3 linked regions of the Homo sapiens genome follow. The protein of the gene in region 1 interacts with the protein of each later gene in a biochemical or structural test. Each region holds a gene or a part of one and is shown on either strand. Other genes may lie near its edges.

What was found.
Region 2: the proteins of PDZD2 (region 1) and PKP4 form a complex in vitro, tested with the Homo sapiens proteins (2 studies listed by BioGRID and IntAct, with this or other methods).
Region 3: the proteins of PDZD2 (region 1) and CTNND2 form a complex in vitro, tested with the Homo sapiens proteins (2 studies listed by BioGRID and IntAct, with this or other methods).

The regions. Positions count from the first base shown.
Region 1 is NC_000005.10:31,634,682-31,642,199, forward strand, and holds the start of PDZD2 (PDZ domain-containing protein 2), read left to right. Parts: upstream 1-4,449; 5' UTR 4,450-4,756; intron 4,757-7,518.
Region 2 is NC_000002.12:158,453,004-158,460,026, reverse strand, and holds the start of PKP4 (plakophilin-4), read right to left. Parts: upstream 3,076-7,023; 5' UTR 2,897-3,075; coding exon of another isoform or gene 2,573-2,896; exon of another isoform or gene 1,720-2,572; intron 1-1,719. Other genes in the region: uncharacterized protein LOC124907900, read left to right, coding at 2,573-2,896; CCDC148 (coiled-coil domain-containing protein 148), read left to right, coding at 3,588-3,612. UniProt on the Homo sapiens protein: Plays a role as a regulator of Rho activity during cytokinesis. May play a role in junctional plaques.
Region 3 is NC_000005.10:11,894,379-11,901,497, reverse strand, and holds part of CTNND2 (catenin delta-2), read left to right. Parts: intron 1-7,119. UniProt on the Homo sapiens protein: Has a critical role in neuronal development, particularly in the formation and/or maintenance of dendritic spines and synapses. Involved in the regulation of Wnt signaling.

The sequences.
Region 1 (7,518 bases):
TGGTGTCTTAATGTGTGTTAAGCAAGTAAACTCAAAGGTAAATCAAATCCCACCACAGTCCAAAAGAATCTACTTGGATAAACACTACACTCTACCCTATTGCAAAATGATTGAATCATCTATATAAATTGTGAAAGTCATACGTGGTCTGTAGTTACTAGTTTGTAATTCAGTTTTTTCTGCCAAAAATTGTATAAAAAAATTACCGTGGCAACCAATGCTTCAATAGTACAAATGGAAGGCTGAGAGACAAAGATATAAAATAATGGGTTGGCTTGTAAGGGGAAGCCCAGGAGAAAATTACAAATTCTTCACGTGCAGTATTATTAGACCACACTGGAAACAATAAAACACATTTGCATAAAATCCAACGTCACGCTCATGGATACAGTGAAACTCATTTTCAATGTACGTGGATGAAAAGTGCTTACTTAAACCTTTCCCCTAAATATATATTTTAAGACAGTATGGGCTGGGTGCAGTGGCTCACGCCTGTAATCCCAGCACTTTGGGAGGCCGAGGCAGGCGGATCACCTGAGGTCAGGAGTTTGAGACCAGCCTGGCCAACATGGTGGAACCCTGTCTCTACTAAAAATACAAAAATTAGCTGGGGGTGGTGGTGGGCACCTGTAATCCCAAGTACTCAGGAGGCTGAGGCAGGAGAATCACTTGAACCCAGGAGGCAGAGGTTGCAGGGAGCCAAGATCGCGCCATTGCACTCCAGCCTGGGCAAAAAGAGCGACACTTCATCTCAAAAAAAAAAAAAAAGAAAGAAAGAAAGAAAAAGAAAAAAACCAGTATGCATCAAATGCAGGTCCTTTTTTGTGTTTTGGCTAAATAAAATATTTCATCTGAGACGGGATAAATATTACAACATTTTTATCAATGTTTAAAATAAAGTCTTATCTCTACAGTACTATGACCAAGTACTGGAATGTGACCTTGGGCACCCTCTCAGCTGTCATGTCACTCTACTTCAGTGTTTCTCCAAGTTATCCTGTGTGGGCCACCCAAATTACAATCACTGGGGTTCTGGTTAAGGGGCATCCAGGGGCTCCCCAAAGACCAAGTATATAGTGATCTCAGGGGGTGAGTCTGGAGTTTTTTAAATTTTCAAACTTCTGGGAATCCTTAAGTGTAGTCCAGACTGAGATCCACTGACTTAATGTTTTACTACCATCGTCACTCATTTGTTCTTTTTCTTTGAGACGGAGTCTTGCTCTGACTCCCAGAGAGGAGTACAGTGGCGTGATCTTGGCTTACTGCAAACTTCACCTCCCAGGCTCAAGCAATTCTCCTGCCTCAGCCTCCCCAGTAGCTGGGATTACAGGCGCCCGCTATCATGCCCAGCTAACTTTTGCATTTTTAGCAGAAGCTGGGTTTCACCCTGTTGGCCAGGCTGGTCTCGAACTCCTGACCTCAAGTGATCCGCCCCTCTCGGCCTTCCAAAGTGCTGGGATTACAGGCATGAGCCAGGGCACTTGGCCTCATTTGTTCTTTTTAAGCCCCTTTCTTGGCCAGGAGATGGCTCGTTCTAGCGTGAGGTCATGAATGGAAGAGTTAGTGGCCAGGAATTTGTGGAAGAAAGAAAAAAGGGTAATTCGCTAGGTAAACAGGAAGCTAGAATCTGTTTTGGAGATAAAATGAACCCACAGAGGCTGGGAGGAGAAAGGGAATTGAGCCAGTTGTTGACTAAGGCTACTTCTCCTCCCTTGAAATTTACTTGGAAGAGCAGCTGAGGCGGAAAGATGGAAAGCAGTCTTTTCAAGAGTTGGTAAGCAAACCTCCAGTTTTAGTTTCAGCTGCCTGGTCTGTAGATTTTTCTTCATAGAGGGAGAAAGCTCAGAAGTAAACCACATGGCACTGCAATCCATGAGAATCTACTTGGACTCACCTAAACCACGCTACATTCTGTCACTGATATAGCTTGGGATCACACATTTTTTCTTTGTTTATCATTTTAATCTTCCTTTGCTCTGAAGTCTTAGATATTCTATATACAGCCTCCTCCTCCTCCACATCACATATATTATGAGCACTAAATTAAAATGGCAACTTTGATAGAAATACTAATCTGTGACTAAATGTTTAACAAGGGGGCAAAAAGGATTTACATTTTGATCTTCAAACATTGGAAAATAAATGCCCTCAGTTGTCAGCTTTCCAAATTGACAAGACTGCAAGGGCAAAACAAAATTTCCATGCATTTGATTGACCTCTGTGAATTGAGCTATTATTAGCAGATAAGAACTTGCCAAAAATATCTGGAAAATATCAGCTGAAAAGTGATTGAAACGAAGTATTTAAAGCAGGTCAGCAGGGCCATGTCTGAAGGAGACAGATTATAAAATACATCTGTATATATTGTATTTATACATAATATATGCCACATATAACATACATGTATATACCTAACAATTCATTTTAATTCAGCAAATATTTATTGAGTGGCTATTGGGTCGGACACCATGCCACCCTAGGCTTTGGGAACACAAACAATAAGCTTTAAGTTCTCTTACCTCCAAGAACTCACAAGCTAGAAATATGTGAGACAAAACGCCATAATTCCTACAACATAATACACCTGACAAGGGTTAGATGAGCAATTTGCATAAAGTGCTACCATTGCAGCAATTAACAAGGCAGAGGAAACGTGATGTTTGTTCTGATGATCAGAGAAGCCTTTCCAGTAGAGATGACATTTACCTCCTTGGGATTTCAGCAGACACAGGAGAGTGAGAATGTCACTCTGGCAGAGGAAACAGAATTTACAGATTAGGAGTACATGGCTGGAATGAAAGAGTTGGGGATGGAGTGGATAAGAAATAGCAGTGACTACAGTTTGAGTGATACATTTATTTGCATATTCATTGATTCAGCAAACTTTTCATTGGTGCTGAGGGAGGTAGGCCCAAGGTATGTGCTGGGTACAGAGGCTGAGAAAACACGGGACAGAGTGGTGGAAGATGGGCCTGGGATTGTGGAAAAAACAGAAAGCACCAGCCCTGTTTGATCCTTCTAGAAGGATTTTTTTGTAGTGTCCCAATGATACCTTTCATTGATAATGGTTACCATTTCATTGAGCACCTCCTAAGTGCTGTGCTGAATAGCTGTGTTACTGCTAGTTCCAGCAATCCTGCATGGTAGGTGTTTTCTCTATTTACACATAGGAAGAGAAGCTCTGAGTGCCTGAGTGCCCAGCTTGTCATATACGATGCTTGGATTTGTGCAAGCATTGATCTCAATGGCCTGGTAATTATAAAAGCTGAAGAACAGCTGAAATCAAGAACTTCTCCACCCCAGCCCCTGAGGACAATACCACCTCCAAATGCCTTGGGCCCACTCTGGTCTCTGGTGTGGTGGGACAGCGCTGTCCGGTCTGCGCAGGTGATTTATGTCTGCCTGCTTTTCGGAGAGGCCAGAGTTTATTGCCTTGCTGGGCAGAACTGCAGCTGGGGCCTGCCCTGTCCCATCCCCATCCCCCCGAAAGCAAAGATTTCCAATTACTGTTCTGTAGAAAATGTCAAAAGCATTATTCAACTATTCATTATCCCAGGTTTTGCAATTTTTCATATGTTTTTACTCTTATCTGCCAGCACTTGAAAAAGACCAGCTTTTTCCTCTTAAGAGAGCTTAATTTGCAGAGCTGTGCAGTCTTCCTATTATGTTCTTATCATCCTCTCCCTTTGGTAGGCAGAATGACAAGGATGACAAAAAAAGAACCAAAAATATTTGAAGGCCTTCCTGAAAATCCACCGGAATGAAGGATCCCAAAAGCCTGAGGCTCGGTTCCTCGAGTGACCTGGACGGGAGCCAAGGGCGGCTGGCATTAGCTCTCACAGTCCACTCGGCAGGAGCTCGTGGCTAGTGCTCATGGGACCAAAACCACCACCCCAGGGCCATGGGATTCCCCCCCAGGGGCTTAACTGGGGGATTAAGCAGCTCTGAGGTGCCAAGAGGTCCCCTCTCCCCGAAATCCTCGTACCAGTGCTAAATTACCTTTGGTATCCCAAGGACCAGAGGCTAAGGGTAGCTTGGGGTGAGTGGTTAGCTCTTCCCCCATCTCCTGTGGCCCCTCCGCCCCATTCTTTGATAAGGTAACTGACATTTTTCTCTTTGCTGTGTAAAGTGCTATGCAGAGGCAACTTCACGTCCCCTAGCTCGCTCTGTTCCACCTAGATGGCGCCCTAAGCCCCGCCTGTATGGAGATTCGGAGCAGCCATCTCCCTGGATGCCTTCCTCCCACGATCCCCAGGTTTCTGAAGCGGGCGCACCAGGACTCCTGGCTCACCCAGAGAGACGCCTTGCCCGCGGCGGGGCTCGCTCGGGGAAATCCCCGCCCACCTTGTTATTCCTGCAGGGGAATCCCCGCCCCCCGTCCCTGTCACTCGGGGAAGGGAGTTCCCGCCCCTCGAATCAACCAGGGGGAGGGAATCCCCGCCCATCCTGGAGGCTCGGCGGATCCCCTGCGCAGCGAGGCGAGGAGCGGACCCCAGCGCCGGTGCGTGCCGGCCCCGGGCAGCGGGACGCGGCGGGGCGGCGGCTGCAGGCAGCCGAGGAGCCGCAGGCCGAACCCAAGGCACCGGGATTGCGCCTCCCGCGGCTGCCGGCGAACCGCGGCTCTGCAGCTCGGGGCAGGCGCGGCGGCGGCACCGGTGGTGGCCGCGGTGGCGGCAGCTGCGCGGGGACCCGCCGGGCGGCGCCTGGGTCTGGACGCGCGAGGAAGCCGCGGGAGCCTCGGCCAAGCCGCGAGCAGGTGAAGCGACCGTCCCGCTGCAGCCGGGACGCGCGGCTCCGGGTGGGCAGGGGATGGGGGAGGCCCGGCACCCCCGAGACCGTGTGTGCCCAGGAAAGTTTAGCTACAAATCCGGGTGCGGGAATCCCAGCCCTGGCAGGGCGGGGAGTGAGGACGCCGAACCGGGGTCCCACGTTGGGCGGCGCAAACTCCTCTAGCATCCGGCCGGGGACGGGGAGGGCGCAGCCCAGGGGAGGGGGCTAGACAGAGCGGGACCGAGACAGCGGGACAACCGGAGACGCACTGCCGGGGGTACTCAAGACAGGGCCGGGACCTCCTGCTCGGGCGCGCATCCCGGGTCCCCATCCCTGGGCCGTCTTCTGGTCCCTTCCTCCGACAGGAGTGGAGGTACTCAGGTACTCCGGCCTCAGGTAATGTCTTGGGGACCATCCTCCCTCGGGCTTGTTTCATCTCTCAACCCCCGCCTCTTTGCCCAGATGAGACGTTAGACGCGGGGCGAGGGAATGCAGGGGGCGCGCAAAGATCAAGGGCATCTTAGGGCCGGTTATTGGCGTCTGCCGGGGAGATGGGGAACATAGTGATAGGGAAATCCTGCTCTCTCTCTGAAGTCGAGTTTCTCCTAAAATCTGGTTTCTCCCTCCCTCTGTTCCTCTCTCCCTCCCTCGGGTTTGCGTTTGTGTTTTAAGTCTTTGAGCTGCCTGTGGTCCCCGCTATTTGGAAAATCCATTAAAGCGCAAGGCTGAATTCAGCAGCAGGAGGGTCCAGGACCCCTGGCAGGAGTTTGCCAGAAGCTGTCCTCGGCAGCCCAAATCTATGCAGAGACCTTGATAAGGGACACTGGAGTGGGAAGAGGACAAGGTCTGGCATGGGCTGGTCGCAGAGACTGGAATGGCAGGCACGAGGGCATTCCAGAGCTCCAGACCTGCCCTGGGACTGGCCGTTGGGCAGTGTTGGGGGATGGAGCTGAGTCTGAGTCTGTCCCCTGCAGCTGGCCTAACCTCTTGCCTCCACCAAAGGTAGGGTAGGTGGATATGTTTGCCTTGACAAATCGCAATGAAACTACTGGAAGTGGTTGCTGAGTGGCTGCAGTAAGTGATGCCCTGATCTGTCCTTGCAGAGAGACCCCCTGGACCTTCAGGGCCTGTTCTCCAGTGGGGTCTCTGAACACTGGAGGGCTTTAGGGGCCTGGCATCTCTACTGGGCCAGCTTTTGTGGGTTGTGACTTCTGGGTGGTGGCCAGATAGGTACAGGTTGGCAGGTGTGAAGTGGGAGTGCTGCTTGTGGGGGCAGAAGAGAATGTCTCAGAACACACCCCTGGCTGTAGGTGGTGGTTCTGGCTTCATGAATTCCTTCTTCCATTAGGATGGGCCCAGAGCTTCTGCTCCTATAATAACCACCTAGTTGTGTGAGTGAGTGTGTGTGTTGCGGGGGTTAGGTGTAGGAGTAGGGGGGTGGCAGGTGCTAGGAGAGGAAAAATCAGAACCATGTAAAGTATATAAATGTACCTACCTTGACATAGTTAATATGCTCCTGGAAAAATATTGAATTATACTTTAAATCTATCGCTGAAATTGATTTTGCATGTACTTTATGGCAGTTTACTATTTAAGGAAACTTATGATAATTTCTCTGTTCATTTCAATCATTTTATTTTTGGAATACCTGTGGTTTGCTGTGCTGGAGGCTGAGGAGGCTTCGAGGTTCCAGGATATGCTTAGATGAAAGATGCTCCCTCGCTGCTGTCAGTTTGTCAGTTTCTGTCCAGCAGGAGAAGGGAGAGAAGCCTGCTAAGCACTATGGTGCAGACCAGTGCACATGCTGCATGTAGTAGACGCCATGTGTTTATTGGATGAAGGAGTGAAGAGATAATTAAGTGAGTAAAGTACCTGAAGAGTGGTCCAAATAAAACATTTTGGGAGTATGGAGGAAAAAGAAGTCACTTTTGCCAGAGAGGATCTGAAAGGCTTTGTGGAGGAGCTCTTAGGTAGAAGTCGAGAGGTTGATCCTGAGTTAGGACTCAGTGCTAAGGACTCAGAGGAACTAAGGACTCAGAGGAACTAAGGACTCAGAGGAACTTAGTTCTCCAGATAGTAGGGAGATGTGTGAGATATTTTTTTTTTTTGAGACTGGGTCTCATTGTTGCCCAGACTCAAGCAATCCTCCCACCTCAGCCTCCTGAGTAACTGGGATCACAGGTGTGTGTTACCACAACCAGATAATTTTTGTGTTTTTTGTGGAGATGGGTTTCACCATGTTGCTTATGCTGGTCTCGAACTCCTGGGCTCAAGTGATCCTGGTGTCTTGGTCTCCCAACGTGCTGGAATTAGAGGCATGAGTCACTGCGCCCAACCTGGCCCCTCGTTCTGCTCCTACACAACCCTTTAGCACACTCACCATGCTGCCCTGGGTGTGTTTCTTTAGGGCCTTATTTTTTTCATACCCAGATAAGGCCTGGAACAGTTGCTAATCAACTTCCTCAGGTTAGACAGGAAAAGAGGCAGAGGGAACACCCCAGACCCCACTACCCCCGGCTGATCATACTGTAGGGTGTTGTGGAAACCCTCTCCCAGAGGCTCCAGGCCTGGTGAGCTGAACAAGATAACACAGAGCTGTGGATACCCCCTTGCCTTTGATCATGTGGGCCTAAGTGACTCGGACCATGGTGGTGGGGGCATCTCTGTTGGAAGGTCTCTCCTACTGCACCATCCACAAGGGGACAAATTCCAAAGATGAACCCACAAAAGGTCAGGAGCAAATCCAAA
Region 2 (7,023 bases), on another chromosome or scaffold:
CAGCACCCTCTCCTTACATAATAGTAGGGGGTGGGGAGGGAATGCACTTTGGTCAAAATACAATTTCGGTTATTTTCAATTGTGTAGGATCACTAGTTGAAAAACTTCCACTCTTTGAATATCTGTAACAAATAGAAAGCATTTCTAACTGAAAGGTTACCTTTACCTGAAGCAGGCAAAACTATCTGCACAGCCAATCGTGTGTGTGTGTGTCGTGTGTGTGTGTGTGTGTGTGTGATCCATACATCTGAACAGGGTTTTCAATTTCTAATGCGGCAGGGAAACTAAATTTGCTTTTACTTCCCAATCTTGACATCAAGTCAAAAAAGCACGGGTTAAGCATGGGTTAAACACTGCTGTAATATGATACTGTTACATAATAAAAGTTTCCTGTTGGCATTTACAAACACCTCCCAATATCCTCCACAGTGTTACTGGACACAAATTAAACCTCTAAATTAGAAGATTCACTGATTATGCACATAGCTGAAAAACAACGTAGCAACCAAAACATAAACGTTTCTGAGTGCAAAATATTTTTTTCTATTTTTTTTCCTTTCTGTTGAGTCCTTAACTAAAGGCTCCTATTTAATAGTTTTCAATGTCCATGATCTACACAAAGTAGGTGTTGGAAGAAAGCTGATTGGTCAGACAACTGACTTATTATTTTACTGAATCTGACATAAAATAACCAGGTGCAAAGAGGTTTATCATAAATGCAACCTGCAAAGCAAATTGTGTCAAATAAAAACACACATATGATGCTTTTCAACACCCAGAAACACTTATTTCAGACATTAGTTGTTCTCGTTTTCATGTTGCCATTTTCCATAACTGTTTCACAGGCACCAAAACGAAGATACTCCTACAGCAATATACTGCATTCAAGAAGAGAAGCATTCTTCTAGTTTCTCTTTAAAAATAAAAAGAATCTAAGCTCAATTCTAGCGAACCATTTTCTGTCAAAATTTTGCTCTCCCGTATTAAGGAAAACAAAATTTGACCAAAAATGCATACTAGCCATCATTGATTTTACACGTAAATAATTACCGTTCTTTAAAACTTGTAGGGCAGCATTTATTTTTTTTTTTCAGTCAAACTCAGTAACAAAGAGAAAAAACTGAGACCTCCACTAATAAATTACATCTTGAAATATACATGATTGTGGTGTCCCCGTGTTACTTTCAATGGTAACTGACACGTCCCGAATTTAACTGTACCAGACAGTTCTATCTGTCCCATCGCTGACCGAACAGTGCTTCTCTGTTTCTATTCATTATGTATTATACGAGGTCTAAACACAGCCCAGTATGACGAGGGAAAAAAATTACACTTCTTAGGATACCAAAGTGATGCATTCAAGATCTCTCTCGCAGTACATGCCCGTGAGCACTAACAGGCATTTTTTGATAGAGCTAAAATATGTTGGCTGCAAGCTCATTACTCTAACAACCTTCAGGCCCCCTGTTTCTGCTGGTTTTCAGAAAACCCTAGTGAAAACCAGGCACTATCCAAACCTTGCACACCAAACTTGCCAACAGCCCTGTGCAATGATCAATAACCTTGGCTACACAGTCATCGGCCCCAAATTCACGGTCCTGAAGACCAATGCAGCAAAAACCCAGACGAAAGGCTAGCTGGAGCCCCAAAGAATTACCGCGCTTCCCCTCTGCCGCATGGAGGGAAGCTATGGGAGGAGAGGAGTGGAATGAGGCTCACCAGCTCCGAAGATGCTCCGGTGACCTCTGGCTGCGCGGCGAGAGCTGGGGAGGGAAGGCGCTAGGGCAGCCGCGGCGGGCTGTGTGGACTCTGCCCCTGGTGCATTCCTCGCATTCCTGCACAATCTGTCGCCAGCCCAGGAGCCGGCAGCGCGCGTCCCCCGCTGTACACACACACCTGACTACCGCTGCGCCCCGAGCGGCCACGGCCGCCGCGGCACCTCCACTGCCCGCGCTCGCGGTGTGTCGCACTCAGCCAACACGCAGCCAAATCCCGGCCCCGCCGCTCGCTCTCCGGGTAGCGGTCCAGGGGAGAGGGCCGGCAGCCTCGGCAGCGGGCGGGGATACCAGATCCGCCAGGGAGGTGCCGCAGCTCCGCTTCAACTCCTGGCAGGGAGAGGAGGAAGCGGCGGCGCAGGAGGGCAGCGGCGAGGCTCGGCGCTGGGGAGCCGGGAGGGGTGGAGCGTGAGGATCCGCGGCCGGTAGAGAGGGGCGCACTAGGCAGAGGGGTGGGCAGGACCGGCAAGGAGTACAGGACTTCGGGGACAAACGCAAGACCGCGCGGGCAGCAGGGGCGTGGGAAGACGGGGAGGGGACCAAGGTGCAGGATCTGGGGCTAGAAGGACAGACAGCCGGCCCCGAGTGCTGAGGAGGGCGGGCGCCCAGTGGTGTCGAGGGCGACTTGGGGCGCGCGGCGGCAGGCAGCGGGGAAGCCGCCGCGAGGGCGTCCAGCAGGGCTCAGCGCGGCGCTCAAGTTCGGGGCTGGGAGCTCTGAATCCGAACAGCCCAGCGTGGGCAGAGGTCGTGCGCTGCGCGTACGGGAGACCGGGGAGAGGAATCGCCGGGAAAAGCAAATGGAGGGTGAAACTTGTGCGCCTGCCGGGGGGAGGGGAGCAGCAGGCGAGTGCGGGCAGGAACACGAGGCGGGGCAGGAAAGCCGCGGCGGCCGCGAGGCGCTGGGGACGCGGCAGCGGGAGGGAGGCCCCCGGCCCCCGGCGCGCAGGTCCTGGCCCTGGCGCGTGTTCGGGGCGAGGGCCGAGGGTCTCGTGGGCAGGAGTCTCCGCGCCCTCCCGCGAGCCCACACACTTACTTTCCAGCTTAGGCAGCGGCCGTCGTCGCTCCAGGGATCAGGGACATCGGCGCCGAGGGGTCGCCGCTGCGGCACCCGAAAAAATTAAAAAAGTGCCGCGGCGGCGCGGCTGCCCGCCCCTCCCTCCCCCACCGGCCCCCGCCCCCGGAGCGGCTCTCCCACCACCCCCGGCGGCGGCGGTGGCCAACTTGCCCCTCTACCCCTTGCCCATGGTGCCGCCTCCGCGGCCGGCGTCGACGCGGACTCAGCCCCGGAGCCCCCTCTACTGCCCAGAGGCCGCCGCCGCCGCCCGCCCCGCTGCCAGCCCTCCCGCCCGGCCAGCCCCGGGCTCCCGGGAACGTCAGCACGCCGCCGTCCCCGGGCCAGCTCCCGCCACCCCATTGGCGGGAAGGAGAGGGCTGGCCCTCCCCATTGGCCCGGCCCTCATATTGAACAGGCCAATGGGAGCTGCGGTTTCAGGTCGCCATAGAGACCGATGCTGTTCAGCGCGAGAGGGCCTGGAGAGGGTGGGTGTGAGAGAGAAGGTGTCTCAGGTCTCGGGCGCGGGAGGGGGTGGCGGAGAGGACAGGGAGATTCCCCAGCGCTGGCTCTGAAATCTGGGGCAGGCTTTCCTTGCCTTACTGCCAATCCCAACTGTGCCTGGTAGGGTTTGTCCCTGGCGTCAAAGGTAGGAACAGCTGAGCCCTTAGATGTACCCCTGACGGCGAGAGCCCAGGAGTGGGCGTTTCACTTTTCCTGCGTTTGGGGAGTCCCTGAGGCTATGCCCTTTGACCTTTGACATGTGTGCAGCTTCTGCTTCTCCAGGTGAGTTTGCACCCCATCCCTTCCATCGCTGCTTCCTCCTGACGTCACTGAGCCACCTAAATCCTACTTATGTTTGTTCTCTGCAGCCACTCCCCCTTCCCTGGGGTGGATCTTTCCTCAACGTTTTGGGTCCTCAAACTCATAACTCTTCTGAAAGACTCAAAGAGGATTTCCTTTGAGGATATTTTGGTAAGGGAACGAGGTGGCGGATTGTATGATAGATGCCAAAGCGTCAACACATGAGCTAGCCTGTTCCCTGATTCTCAAAGCAAACCTCTAATCTCCCTGTGGGCAGATATTTATTAAACACATCTGTGTGTACATCCCGCACTATGAGCTTGACAGGTGCATGTTCTTTCACTTGAGAGGTTACAGGCTTGTTAAAGATAGAGGAAACAGAAACAATCCTTCACACCTTGTGATGATTTCACAAAAGAGTAAGGGAAATGGATTACAGTTGATGGATTTTGTTTTCTATTTTCCAGTATCTCTTTAAATTTGATATGGAAATAACCTGAGGCATGAAATCAGTACACGCAAAAATCTTGAGCTTTAATAATGTCTTCTACTTTCATTTAAAATCATTTTGTGGTGGTTTATCAATACTAATTGTTTTTTGTCAATAAATTTTATGTTTAGATATCACCTTCTTAAAGTGAGATTTCATGAACATATTAGGCTTTAAAAGATGATATTGCTCTAGCCTATAGCCACTGATATTCTTACATTCTTTTGGCGATTTTACTTTTTTTAGACTAATCTCTTTAGTAAGGAGACTATGTTACTACCCCTCAAATTGGAGGGACCATATTGTGTGAAAAAGCTGATAGGATTTTGGAAATTACAAATATTTTGTTGGGAGAAACAGGTTAATGTGTGTGCAAGCTGCATATGTCTAAGTATTGTTCTGAATTTTAAGTTGGGTGATATGCTTTGCTACTGGTTTTTATCTTACTATAATTGAAGATTACAAAGATGTAACCTAAGAAATGTTAATATGGTGCCTTGATTGGAAAAAAAAAAACCTCTCCACATTTGTAGTAAAATGTGAACTCAGTTGACAGTCCTACACAGGGTAGGACTGTGGAACAAAACAGGTGAACGTGTGTATGTTCCCCCTAAATATTTTCAGAATTGAGAAGGGATCAGCAGGGGCCAGGAAGTGCTGTGCCATGGCTGGCCATCATGGAAATAGGCTGTTTTTTACTTCTTCCGGCTTTTTAATGTGTGTTTTTGTTTATAGAACAGAAAAAGTAAACCACAAATTGTTATATGAGACACATGTTTAATGAAAAGATACCAATGATTTTGCTTCTTTTAAATTTCAATAACATCAAATGAATGAAAGTTGTGTCTAATGGAAAGAAAAAATGGGTCTTTTCTCTTGCCTTAGGCTAGCATAGAAAGAAGAAAATAAAAGATTATTACTCCAATAATCTTTTTGTGTGGGTGTTTTTCTCAGATGACTATTTTGATATTGTAGATTTCGTGTTTGTCATAATTAAAATGTTACTGAAATCCACCATGAATAATGTCCCCTGAAATAAGTTGCCACTCAACATTAATTTTTTTGTTTATTTTTGTATTTAGTTGAAAGGTTTCTTTTGAACTTGCTCCTGCGCTACTAAGCATTGCTAGACAAGGTTAAAGAATCACTTCATTCCACTAAAAGTTCATGCTATTCAGACTTGGCTGTGTCTTCACTGATTCTCAGTTCCTTTCCTCATCAGGAGGATGATTATCTGGAACACTTATCCAGGAACATTATCCAGGCCACTTCCAAACCTGTCCAATGTCTGCTCTCCTGAAGCCCCCACTTTACGTGGTTTTCCTGCACTTCTGCAAATGATCTTGCCTCGTACTCTACTGAAGGATCCACCATGAGGTTCCTCAACTTAACTTTCTTAAACCTCAGTCCTAGTTTTCACACATCTTCACCTCCTTCAGTCATGGCTGAGAAGGGTGACCACATTTCTCTTCAAGGCTCATACTCCACTTATGCTCCTAAACATGAGCCATCTTCTCTCTACCAGGATTTTGCTCTATTGATTATAATTTCTCTCTTACATGATGTGTTACACCCTCTCCTCCAAAGATTTTTCCTAAGCCTTCCAAATATCTGGCTTTTGGTAAAACCACCTTCCTTCTACCCTACCACCATCTCTATCTATTGGCCTTTCTTTTCACCAAGAAACTGTCTGAAGGGAATTTCTTGAGGTTTCTACTTTGTTGCCAATGTTTTGGCCCTTGAATACCACTGAAATGATTTTGAAGATTGTGCTCTTTGTCCTCAAAATCCTAGCTTATTTTGCCAATTAAGTTCTCTCCTACAAAAATGTCCTTTGCCTCCAAGTTGGAATGGCCCAATTCCAGATTTCCAGTGAAGGAATGAAACCACTGTTACCTAGCCTGAGGATCCACAGAAATGCAAATGACTGGCTTGAGAAGAGGATGATTTAAACTGCTAGCCTGGCCACCTTGGGAAAAGTGCTGGAAAGTAGGGGTGGGGAGAGGGCCTGTGCTCAGGCTGACACTGGGGCCCAGGGCAAGGTTAGAATATTAGGAGGTCTGGTGACTCCACCCTCAAGAACGAAAGTAAACAGCAGAAATCCAAACAACTTTTCAATTACCAGCTCAGAAAGAAGTCTACCTGAAACTTTTAAGATTACGAAAACTTTGTAACTTTCCAATGTTTATTTTTTTCATATTATCCCCTAAAGATTAGTGGTAAATTCCCTAAGAAGCATAGCAGAGGCAGCAAGGAATAGGAGGAAGCAGGAGCACTGAGTCTCTTGTCATACCTGGGTGTCTATGGAGGAGTGGGGGAGGTGAAGATAAAATCTTCAAAAAGTACGCCAATACTGATAATTTTGGGGTTTTCTTTTTAAAGAGGAATGTTAAAACAGAGGTGGGTGGCAAAGGAGGGAAAGAGAGTAATGGAATAAGCGGGGCCTGAGAAGGGTTGCTAGGGCTTAATAATAGTTCCGCTCAGGTGGCTCTGGTGGTTTCAGGATTGGCTGAGCCCCACCCCATCCCCATCCTCTGAATATATTATACAAATCCTCCCATGGCTCTGCCTAATGATTACCTGTAAAAACTTTCTGAAAGTTTCCTGGCCTTCCCCCTTCTTGAGAGGGTGAGTTCTTCCTTACTGTATTGTGACCCTTGACACTCTATATCAAATGGTGTGGTTATTTTTGTGTGAGCCTTTTCCCCTAAGGGATAGGATCCACATCATGATCATGATTGTGTCCCTCACTGCCTTAAACTGCTGAAGCACCTCCCACACTAAGAAAAGCCAATATTTATTAGTCCTTTGTTTAGTTCTTGGAAGAACTTGACTTTGAACAATAAAAAATTGGAATCAGGATGTTGGGAGAGAATTAGGAAAAGTTGGGATTAGCTGTACAA
Region 3 (7,119 bases), about 20 Mb from region 1:
TATAAGCCAATTCTTTCTCCCAGTGAAATTGTTCATCAGAGACAAAAATGAAATTCAAATACTAGTTTGCAAATGCAATTTATAGTTTTGTTAAATAATTTCTAAGGATAATATTGCTTTCATAATAGTTTCTAAAATTAAAAATGAAGTTATAATCTCAAATATAATATTACTTTGGCATTTAGTTGAATATGCAGTGTATTTGCAGAAAATGTTACAGAACTTGCTCTTTTCTGTTTTGCCTTATCAGACTTCTTTCTTGTGTGGTATGAATTTGTGTGGACTTGTCGAAGGGGTTTTCAGAGTAATTTCATCAGGTTGTCTTTAAGAAAACATTAACATTACATTTGAAATAATTTATTGTAATTTGTCCATAGGGTCAGTACACTATGTATGGACCAGTGTATACAGCTGTAACAAGCCAATTGAATTAAAATAGAAACTGTTACATTTTGAACTTCCAATGTTTTCTTCTTTATGATTAGCCACAGAAAATGGGAACACCCATTTTTGTTTTTTCTCTGTGCGAACATTATTTTCACTTCTTAGAGGGAAATCCTTGATGCTAGTCTCACTTTTCCTAACAGAGTTTTTATTTTTAAAAGACTTAACATAGTTGGGAGTACTTAAACTTGGATGTCATAATTCAGACAATGAACAAAAACTAAGCATGGACTGCTAGTCATTTTCAAGTCCAGTACTTCAGCTGAAGGTGTGGTTCTTTGCTGGCTGATTTGCAAGTTGGAAATACACTGCCAAGCCAAATTCATTGTTGGCTTCCATGATGGTTTTCCTCATTCATCTTCTGAAGGTGTTCTCCTGTCCACAGTACTTTGATAGCCTTCTGGTGTGTGAAAAGTTAATTTGAGTAGGAACAGTTCATGATACTTGTTGCTAGCTTCAAGTTATCTGATTATATGCCAAAGCAACAGCTTTTTATATTAATATAAAATATTAAACATGTCATCAATAAATAGTTTCTATCACATTGTCTGCCAATCCAGCCTACTGATTAACAAACTGCCTGGTTGGGTTTAATAAACTCAGTTATAGTCACAAACAGTACCTCCAACACAGGGAACTCACAGAAATATTTTATCATACTGTGCTTTTTAGTCCATTAAATATTAAGACTCATAACAAAAATCTGCAGTTATGACACCTCCAGTTGTTTATCTTTTGATCACATAGCAGTTAAGTGCAATTCCAAGCTCTGAATCATGGTTAATTGATTTGTAGGAAGTGTCTTAGCTATGTCAGGATATTGAAGTACCTGTATCAATTAGTTTTTGACAAATTGGAAATAATGACTAAATAAGTGAAACAATGCTTCCTAGAACCTTTCTATCTTAGATAAATATTCACCTGTCTCTCTTGGCACATTACGTGCAAAATGAATTACATATATTGAAACATTTTATTGGGTTCTTATATATTATATATTACAATATTTTGTAATAAAGTTACACATACACACACACACAAACACGTTATATGTCAGAGCCCAACTATTTCTCTAGAAATATGTTTGTGATCTGAAATGACAATTATTGGAAAAATAAGTTTCCCTAGTGTAATGCTGTTTTGCATTCTGCTTCTGGTGGGTACAGAGATGTGGAGAGAGCACTGGCTTTTGGTGGATTCCAGCCCTGTCTCTTCTTAGCTGTGTATCCCTCACCATTTATGTGATCCTCAGTTGTTAACTCAGTTTCTTCAGCTGTAAAATGGGTAGAATAAGACACAATATCTTAAAAGATTTCTTTGAGGATAAAGTGAGTAAGAGCATGGATAAGTGGCTTGTAAATTACAAAATTTATGTGAACACAAGAAATCAATATATACATATTAAGACAGGTACTAATGTTTTATACATATCTAATTAAATAGGTTATCTAGGTTACCATCCTCTCTAACAAAGGATATTAAATGGCTGTAATTTCCCTACCCCAACCCCTATTGTAATATTGCTTCATTATGCAGATTTGCTTATAAAATATGCTAAACTTTCTATTCTGAAACATACCAGCCCTTTATATATTAAAGTATATAGCAGTTAAGCTAAAGGAGAAGTAAATTATATCTCCCAACACCATTATTATAAAAGATTCTAACCCAGTAGAAATTACAAAACTTTGATATTCTTTATTAGTGTTATATTAGTCACCTGATTAAGATCAAATTTTCTACAAAGATTAATGTTGTACAAAGACTATCATAGACAGTTTAATAAGCATCACTCTCTGTGAGGTCAGATATTACACATCCGCTCTGTTTAGAACCACCGAGCATGAATCTCATCATCATGTCATTATGATAGAGAAAAAAGAAACCTTAAACAGCTAAATGTATTACATAAAGGGAAGACCCCCTCCCCAATTAAAATCAAGTCCTTGAAGAGAACTAAAAAGTGTGTGAATTGGTACCTCTTTGAAAATAGATGGTCATTTTTGCTTTGTTTCACTCTTAAGAGCTTCAGTGAAGACAAAAAAGTGCCCAGCTCTTCCAGGTTGGAAGATGTCCAGCTCCTTGGGATGATCAAACCCAGAGGGGCTTCATTTAGAACTGTGATCTTCAGCAACATAATTTTTAGGATAATTACGATTCGATGTATCTTGGAATTTGTTTCAGAATGTGAGCTGTATAATGGGGGACAAATTTATCTTCAGTCAGAAAAACATTTTTACAATAAATGTGGTTATTTGTATTCAAATTTATGTGTTGTTGTGGGAACTGCCAATTATAAGTTACCAGAGCAAAATACATGTTATGATAAAAGGCCTTACTGGGTTTTTTTGTTTTTTTGGATCAAAGTAAGCAGGTGAGCCAATTATATTTGGTTAAATAAATATATGTAACATTTCTACAAGTTTTGAATGATACAGAAATGTTACTAAATAGGATGTTTACTTTATAACACTAGATGATGGGGGAACAATTAATTGGATCATTGATATTAGAAAATACACTTCTCTTGCCTAGGTAAAGGCCAGAGAAGTGTATTAGTAACATTTTTGGTTTAACAGATGTGATTATCACAACTGTCATTAGAAATTTTAAGAAAACTGCATTTTGTGCATGTTTTATGCAGTTCTTTCTTTTGGTTTAGAAACCTCCTTATAATGTACAAATGCTTTATTGTATTATCTCTTTGCATTTAAATATGCAATTACATAAACCACAGAAAGGTATATAGTTACTTTAAGAATTACAAAATGTGCAGGAATGTGGGTTGTTGGTGTCTTTAAGGAATCAAATAAATATCAAGCTCTCCTCCTCCCCACTCCCCATCTCAGCATGTTGGGATATTGGAAGGGAAAAAGATAAATAATTGGCTGCCATGGGCAAAAATATCAGTTTTGATTAGACATAGCTTGGTGTGGCAGTTGAATTACATCCCAGGTCCTCTGCCTTCTTTCCCTCCTCCCTCCCCACAGGGACAGAGCTTTTTCTGAGCTGGCAGAGCCAAGCCTTGCTCTCTGCAGGGAGGATGATCTCCAGAGGAAGAGAGAAGCAGCAAGGCAAGCTGCTTCTTTATTCTTCAGAGGCAGAGAAAGTGAAAAGCTGGAGAGAGGCCAGCAGTGTTACATTAATTAAGTTCCCTTTGCCTGAAAGGAAATATCAGAATAGAGAAGAAGTGTTCCCCATTGGCATGGTTTATGAAGAATTCTAGTTGATAGAATTCTGGATATAGTAGCTTTCACAGTACTTTGCTTGGTAGTTGAGCTCTTTAAATATTTCATGGTATTTTGACACTACATCAAGAGTTATCAAGGTAGCGTCTAATGCCCTGGTTGATTTGTAGCAACTATGGTCCATGAAATTCAGCAGATTTATGTATAGCCAACTTTAAAATAACTTACCCTTGGCGTTCTTCCCCTATTTTTCATGTTATTCTTTAACTGCCAATAATTGGATCGCTTTGTAAGTGGTGAGAATTAGACATAAAAAAGATGATGTTAAAATCTGACTTCCCAAACCATATATAAGTGATCTAGGCTAGCTATTTTCCACAGCTTTTTCTGCCTCAGTATAAATAATTAGATTTTGGTGGCTGTTTGATGTTTTGCAATTAATAGGAGAAATCATGGACACAGTAAAGAAAGAAGATAAACATTGCTTTTCTAAATAGATACGATGTTGTATTTAAGTCTAAGCATGACTACTCAATCTAAAAATGCTCACTTTTTAAAACAAATTTTATCCTCTGTCACATATTTTATTTGGACTTTCAAATATTAGACTAATATAGCAGTCATTACCTTCAACAGTATACAATAATGTAATTTCCAGAAAGAGCAACCTCTTTGGTAGCTCCAAATGTAAAAGAGCCACAGTTCAATCTCTCATCTCTAACACAGTCTTCACTGGTGTGGAGCATTGTTCTTGGGGTCATGGGGAAACCAAATAAGGAAGAAGAATCCTCCAGAAAGACAGACAGGTGTTATATAAAAAGTCTCAGAGATAGTACAAATTGTCTCATTAACCCAGGACATGGAAGGTTGATGCAGGAAGGCTGGGGCTTGTAGCATCTGGATCAGATTATTTGTGTTGCTTAACTCAGGTTGAAAAAGAGTAATGTTAAATTCATAGCAGGTGCATAGATATATTATGGCACCTCTAGCCAAAGAAATATGCAATTATGAATTATAGTTTCAGAGTAGCTAATTATATGAGAACTATTCATAATACTAAAGCTAAGAAGATAATCAAGGCAAATAACTATATTGAATGTGATACCCAGCACACATACCCACTCCCAAATGTGAGAACACTGAGAACACAGTGTTTATGTCAGGGTTTCAAGAGTTTTGTTCTTTATATATTACTTTTCCACTAAATATATCATAGTTTAATATATATATTACATTATGCAGAAGAAAAGCATGCCTTTCCATTCTTGAAAAGAATAGTATATATTTATTTTGGGGTGAAGTTCATTAATTAGCTGAATGCATGACTTAAAGTTAACAAAGGTCATTCATCATGGAATGTAGATTACACAGATTTTGATCAGCCATACTTACATTTTCTCGCCTTTAAATTTGAGATTTGTTTGTTTTCAAAAGTAGTGCATGCTCATTGAAAATTCAAAAATACAGAAATGATTAAAAGAAGTTAAAATTCATGCATGGTTGCAAGCCCCAGAAATGACCATATTTTTAGCAGAGATATCAAGCGATACACATTTTTAAATTTAGAAAACATTGCTCATATTCTGTTTAGTTACCTATTAACATCTCATGTAATTAGTATTTATTTTTAGTGTCTGTTTTCCATACCTTTATATAACATTATTTACTTACATCACTCTGTTATTGGAGATTGATGACATTTTCATTTTTGGTAGTTATATTTAATGCTGTAATTAAGATCCTAATAACTAAATAGTTGTCATCAGGTTATTTACTCTAGATTACTTCCTAGAACTGGATGTTTTCAAGGTTGTTGATATATGTTGTTCATTTGTCTTCCAGGAAGATTATATAATTTATATTTCTCTCAGCAAGGCAGGAGTGTACAAATTTTCCCATGATTTCAACAACACTGGGTGTTGTAATGAGAAAAATAAAACTTCTAATTACATAGGAGAAATATTGTGTTTTTCTCTAATTCATTTGCTTCTCTATTAATATTCCTGAGGTTAAATATTTTCTAATTTGTTGGTGTCTACGTCTAATTTTTTTGTGAATTATCTTTTTATATCTTATACACATTTCTCAATTTATCTATTTTCCTTTTTTAAAATTGATTTATATTGTTTGTCTATAGTAATTATGTCACTCTGTCATGTCTTAACAGTTTATATATCATTTTATTGGTTCCTATTTTGGGAGCATAATTCTAAAGCTTGAAGTTAAACTTACTCACTTGTCCTACAGGAGTTCTTCTTTAAGGAAACATTTTACTGCTTGCTGATTTCGTGTGTCCCAGTAGTAAATACAGCAGTGGAGCAAATGGTTGAGAAAATAGCTTCAAAGTTGTACCCCAACTGACTGAGTTCATATCCCAACTTCATCATTTTCTAAGTGAACGGTTATTTTACTACTAAGTGTCATAACACAGGGGAAACAATAATTCCTGTGTCTTCAGGTTGTTGCGACGGTGAATTAAGAGACCATGGACTTAAAATACATAGCAGAGTATGTGGTATATTCACTATTACAACACACATTAGCTGTTTCTACTGCGAAATAATACAGATGCCAGATGCTTTTCTGTAATTCTGGCGTTTGCTTTTCCCACATGAAGCATAAACGCACCTGCACAGACTCCAGGATCACTGTGTGAAAAGGCAAGGTGTTTGTGGCAGTCCGGGGCTCACAGGTGCAGTGCTTTGTGTGTGGTTCTGGCACTTGACTGTGTGTTCTTCAGGGATGTCTCATTTCTCAAGTTCAAGTTCGTTGGGAAGAGCCAGGACACTGTTTTTAGGCAAACACATGATTTTCTACCTTCTCCCCCTGCTCTCAGGCACACACTCCTTCTCTCTGGTCACATAGGACCATGCTTCTCCCCAGCCCCACCCCATACTGGTAATCTATCTTTTAAAATAATTGATCCACAAATCATAGGATAGTAGTAGGCATGTAACAAACACTTAGTTCATCATTTGGGGCAAAAATGGTTTCTGAACCAAGGTTTCTTTGCTTGCTTTGGGTTGGTTTTGGGTACAGACACTGCAGCACCCTGGAGGGACCACTGCCTTAGGATGCCAAGTTCTGGGATCTAAATCGTGCTTGGCACTTGCCTTCTCTTGTGACTTTGCATCTTTGCCTATTTTGTCATTTGTTCCTTGGGATAAAAACTCACAGGGCTTTGTTGAATGTGCTGTGATAATTTAGGTGAAAATGCTTTGGGAAGCTTAATCATAATAAACATTTAAGTATAAAATATATTCTCTGGAACTTTTGATGCACTTCAAAAATACAGTAATGGTGGGGGGTAAGAGTTAGAGTCAAAAGATTTTCTTGCCTATAAAACTAAATCTCTGAATTTTGTTACTAATGTGTTTATAAAATGCCCACTTCCATAGTGGTTGTAAAGATATTGCTACATTTCATGCTATTGGCTATTGCCTAAAGGAAGAATTCTCCTTTATCCATCCGTAGAAGTAATTCTTGT